Linked DNA regions of Homo sapiens: region 1 is linked to region 2. The links come from fine-mapping of genetic effects on gene expression. Tissue or cell type: whole blood. Region 2 holds a variant in brackets; the other region holds the start of a gene. All regions are shown on one strand. Distances are between the middles of the regions.

The links. PIP is the estimated chance that this variant, and not a neighbour inherited with it, causes the effect.
Region 1: it holds the start of TBX19, and the variant in region 2 is fine-mapped to the expression of TBX19 in whole blood (TOPMed, PIP above 0.99).

What each region holds. Positions count from the first base shown.
Region 1 is chr1:168,279,272-168,282,033 of GRCh38, reverse strand. TBX19 (T-box transcription factor 19) reads right to left here and starts at 1,157. Exons shown (of 8, transcript NM_005149.3): 1 at 741-1,157. The coding sequence starts at 943.
Region 2 is chr1:168,241,236-168,243,997 of GRCh38, reverse strand. SFT2D2 (SFT2 domain containing 2) reads right to left here. Exons shown (of 8, transcript NM_199344.3): 8 at 1-1,497. The coding sequence ends at 1,458. Among named protein-coding and RNA genes, the nearest start is that of SFT2D2, 17 kb to the right of the region's middle. The variant T/C (reference allele first, on the strand shown) is at 1,322.

The DNA.
Region 1 (2,762 bases), 38 kb before region 2:
GTGAAATCTTCTAATATTACCTGGACAGCCCCTTAGCAGACTAGGTTTAATAGAATCTGAGAAATGCCACCAGAGATCAGTTTCAGTTAATCCCTAAATTTGTTGCACTGATAAGAAAGAAGGCATCTTCTTTTCTCTAAAGCAGAATAATATGTTTTCATCCACTATTACTGCAACAGCTTTCATATCATCACAAACACACACAATCTCAAATGAACACTCACCACAAACACACACGGGGAAGCAGATGAAGTGATAGGCAATGAGTTTACATTTGCCCTTTTGCTTCCAATCTTCAACTAGCCAAACATTTCTGGCAAGTTTGCTATACTTAGGAGGAGATCATCCAGCTTCCAAATAAAGTTGTCTTTCACCTTATCTGGACGGAGTTGGGGCTCAGGTCTGCGATAGGGTATGCAGCTAGTCACAAATTAATATTATTTTCTGACATTTAAGTCCATTTTCCCATCCCAATGGGGCATGCCCCCCACTTTATGGTAATTTCCCCAGAATTTCTCCATTTAAAATGCACATAAGACAGGTGGCTTCATCCTCTGATGATCTCAGATAAATTAATTAAGTTGGCTGGAGGAAAGCCATTGGAGACAGTCGTTCCTGTAAGCATGTTTAATCAGATCCCGCCGCCTCTGAGTGAAGAGCGGCAGCCTCTTCAATATTCAAGGGGTCTCATCTCTCCTGCCAAGCCCTGCCAGCCCACGCGGGGCGGCAGATAAACTCACCTGCCATTCTTGGTCACAATCATCTCATTAGTGACTTCCTTGAATCTCTGCCAGAGAGGTGCATCCTCCAGGATGATCTGAAGTTGCTTCTCCGTAGGGTCGCCTTTTTCCCTCCCTGCCTGAAGCTCACTCTCCACCACATTGAGCAGATGAGAAACAGTGCCATCGCTGGGCTTCCGAGTGCCCAGCTCACTCATGGCCATAGGCACTTCTCGAACTTTGCCGAGAGCCGTTACCCAACTTGCCTGCTTCTAGCTTCTTCCTTCCCTCACTTGCCTGCTTTTCAAACCCACTTGAACAGTGCTTGGGGAGCGGAGAGAAGATACCCTGGCTCTTGCCTAAGCTCCTAGGATGACACCCCTTAAAAGTCTCCACATTATGCCACCAACCTGTTAAGCTTTAGTTGGGGAGCGGGGTGGAGGCAGGGGAGAGGTAGGGAAGAAAAAGCCCTCTCTTAATTACTCATTGGATCAGGTGGGAGAGAGCCTGGCTTTCCCATTGGCTGCCGTGCACAGAGTAGATATTTAAGAAGAGTACTCCATCCAAATTATCAGGCTTTTATCTTGTTGTACCTGAAGAGGTCTAATCGGTGTATTGAGGACCATTTTCCCATTAATTAAAATTATTCCAGGCCCAGACTGCACTGTCAGGCAAATCATGTTTGTGCATAAATCATGACATGTGGCACCTATAAAGAAAAGGGTCCTGGGGAGAATCGACAAACTTGATGCCCAGGCTATAAGCTACTCTCCAGCATCTTAGACGAAGGCTCTGGAGGGAAGAAAGCATGTATGGAAGGTCCAAGGCACTGTGCCAAGAAACATGACTACTGTACCAGAGAATAAAGGAAGACACTCTGTGTGCCACTGCTCAAGGGTCAGGGCTCCGGAGAAAAGAAAAGAGCTCAGAATCTCTTTCTCCCAGGGTGTCCCCTACTGATCATCTCTCTCCTGAATGTCCTATACTCGCTCACACCCCACTTTTCTCAAGGGCCCTCCTCACCTCCTACAAATGGAGCTGTGAATGTTGTCCTTCCTCCCTAGAGTCTAGAACCCCAATTTTTGTTATCTCTAGCCTTTGCCAGAGGAAGACAAAAAAGCAGCTAGTATCATATTAATCTCGCTAAGGAACACTCTGCCCCCAGTCAGTGAAAATAAACTGTTTACATTATTAGGCAGAGCAATTTCAATCTTTGGTCCAGAAAGGCATTCTGGTTTTCTCTTTAGACAATTCATCCTTATTTTGGCATTCCAGGATGAATCCCACATTCCCTGGGAAGAAACACTAGTAGAAAGCTTTTCTTTTGCCCACAACACACAGTACTAATGGCGAGTGAGTGGATGGCGGGTGGAAGAGACAGGAGCAGAGGAAGCTCTACCTCCTCTGGCCCCCAACCTTGAGTAGAGCCTGGGGGTTGTGAGTTTTTCTCTCATTTCAATACAAAGTAAGAAAACAAGAACATAAGGAAAACAAACCCAAAAAGGTAAGATAAAGTCAGGGTAAGGATGACAGAAAATGTATTCAGGATCTCCTATGCTACATACCTATGAAGCATCACATACAGCAAGGAACAAACAGAAATGGCCTGCGCCTTTACAGAATTAACAATATGATGGAGAAAATAAATGATATAAAGTAAACAACAACTAAGTAATTATCAATAGTGATAAGTCTATGAAGGCTACTTAAAAGGGTGAAGTGATCAAGAAAAATTTGTGCACAGCAGGGTAGGGAACTCCAGTTAGATGGAGTTGTATAGAACAGCTTCTTTGAGGAGGAGACATTTCAGATGAGACCAAAAGCTCAGCAAAGATGTAGTCGGGGAAGAGTTGGCAGAGTGCCAAGCAGAAGAATTACATGTGAGAAGCATGGCTTGAGCCAGGTAGAAATCTCCAGGGAGGCCAGTGTGACCAGAATGTGGTGGTAAAGAGAGCAGAATGAGATGTTCTTTGAGAGAGGGCCAGGCCAGACCATGAGGCCTTAGAAGTCATGATGAAGAATTTGAATGTTCTTCAGCATGAG
Region 2 (2,762 bases):
ATGACTCTGGAGGTCCTGGAGGGCCAGGAATGCTGGCTGACAAGACAGGGCACTAATCGTAGTCAGGCAACAAGGAGGAGCTGAAAGGGAACACAAGGGACAGTGAACATCCTGCAGATCCAGGAAGAAGCTTCCAAAAGAGATGGGCAGGGAGGGCCAGGGAGGAGATGGCTTGGCTGATGAAAACGAGGGAAACAGTCACAGGCAGTTACAGGAGGCACAACCAGAAACAGGCCAGGAAACTCTGGGGTCATGAAGGAGGCTGAAGCTGTGGCTTTGGGTGGATCCAAAAACCAGTGTGGGCCTTGATTCCCTTGACTGCACAGTGGTATAACAATCCCTGCTTCCTCACAAGGCTCTCCATAAGAACCAGGTAAGATCGTGGACACAAAAGCACTTTGTAGGTTAGGCATCAGGCTGACATGAGACCACCTGCAGTTTATCCCCAGTGTCCCCAGCACAGGCTAAGTGCAAACACTGGGACTATTTAAAGGTCACTGGGCAGGCGTGCCTACTTCCTGCTGGCTGCACAGCAGGGATCTGTCTTCCCACCCCACTCTCCCCTGGCCCAACTCCAGGGGAGAATGGAAAATAAAATCAGTTTAAAAGCAAACATTTATAAATAATGGAGAAAAAAATATAGCTGAGAGCAGCAGGATTTTTCAACTCCTATGGGCTCTCGTCCAAAAAAAAAACAGCAGCATTTTCTGCTGCTGCTCTGTTCTTTCCCCATCTAGTGCCAGGAGGTCATAAAGAAAGATATGCAGGGAGAGGGAGGGAGGGATGGGAAATAAAACCCAAGAGAAAAAGAGTCTGCACCTAATGTCAGAAAATACATTCCACAGTCAGGCGCAGAATCAGAACACCAAGAATGCTTAGATTCAAATTCAGAAACAGCATATACCACCAAAAAGTGCTTCTTTTCTACCTCACTCCATGGCCAGGCTCTCCAGGGGCTTGTCTAAAGCAGAGTCACTTGTTCTCAGATGCCAGAGTAGAAGCAGACTCACTCTATGCAGGACCACGGTGATGGCTTCCATGCTGAGGGACAAGTGGACCCCAAAACTCTGTCCCTTACTGTTGCTCCCGTGATCTCTGATGGGGCTGCCTTTTGCCACCTGGGAATCACTTGCACCCAAGGCTTATGTGCTGTTGCTGAATAGGTTTGTATTCATGGGAATTCAGTGGGACAACATCCAGAGAGGAAACAGGTACATGAGGAAGATTCCACTCCACAAGATACAGAACCCACTTCTCATCCTGTGCTACTGACATTCAGGTTCGAGAATGTATTGTTGCTTCCAAAAGTAACCCTCAAATG[T/C]TCGAATCACAAGCAACACATTGCTGCAAGATAAAAGGCACATGTCTGTAAGACAGAGGTTTCGAAGATAGTTACAAAACTGTCCACCAGCTTCTGTCCATAGTGCCTTCCAAAGCTTCATAAAACTGGCCATGAATTATGCAAGACACACGGCAAAACACTTCTTCACAGCATCCCTAGGAAAGAAAAGACACAAAGATGAGTGGAACGTCATCACCCCAAAGGCACTCCTTTAGAGGGCACCCAGAGTGGAAGCTGCAGAGTAGAAAGCACCTAGACTGAAAGATCAGACCTTCACAGCATCAAACTGCAGCTTCAACATTTATTAGTAGTACTATCCTGGGAAAGTTCCTTGTCCTGTTTGAGTTTCAAATTCCTCATCTGTAAGAGGGGATGTCCCCACTTACCCGACAGTCTGATTATGGGATTAGCCATCATAATCAGAGAAAAAGATAACATAGACTGTCAGAAACTAAGAAATCAGTCAGGATTGCTGCACTTTAATATCGGTCAAAATCACAGAATGCACTGACAGCATTAAATCAAATATTAACTGGGACCTTTCTTCATTCTAAGCAGGCAGCAGAAGGGAGCTCACTATGGGTCCTGAGCACTTATTAATATGCTATAATGGCCTTATCACAGGTATTTACTGCTTGGAATTCAGTGTAGAGGGTGCAAGGAAGAGTTGGTCTTCAAGAAATTACTATTCTACCCAAGCAAGCACTTCCATTTCCACCACCACACCACACTGTGCAATGTGGCACTAGGCTTCTCATACCCCAGCTCTGTTCCACGTTCTCAACTGTGCTGCACTAAGGACATTGGGAGTCACATAAGGGAGGGAGAGGTGAATGGATGCATTTCCATGAGTAGGCACTGCATTTTAATATCAAGATGGTTCCAGGGCAGCATTTCTTGAGATATACTCTGCACTGTAGTCTCAGAAGAGTCTCTGCACAAGAAGGGTTTTATGGCCACATAAGTCCCCCTCATGGCAGCTCACAATACACATAGCATATGGAAGGATCTAGCAAGCCAGGCAAAGAGGAACCTACCTAATTTTGCTTAACCTGTTTCTCAAACTTACTTGATCATAGAACTCTTTTCTTCCACAGAAACACTATTTCTGTGGAACACTGTGGGAAAAGCTATTCCAGGGGAACTTACAAATAGAAGGGTGGGGCCAGGCATGGTGGTTCGGACCTGTAAACCCAGCACTTTGGGAGGCCGAGGTGGGCCAATCACTTGAGGTCAGGAGTTCGAGACCAGCCTGGCCAACACGGTGAAACCCCATCTCTACTAAAAATACAAAAAATGAGCCTGGCATGGTGGCGTGCACATGGAGGCTGAGGCAGGAGAACAGCTTGAAGCCAGGAGGTTGGAGACTGAGGTGAGCTGACATCGGGCCACTGCACTCCAGCCTGGGCCATAGAGTGAG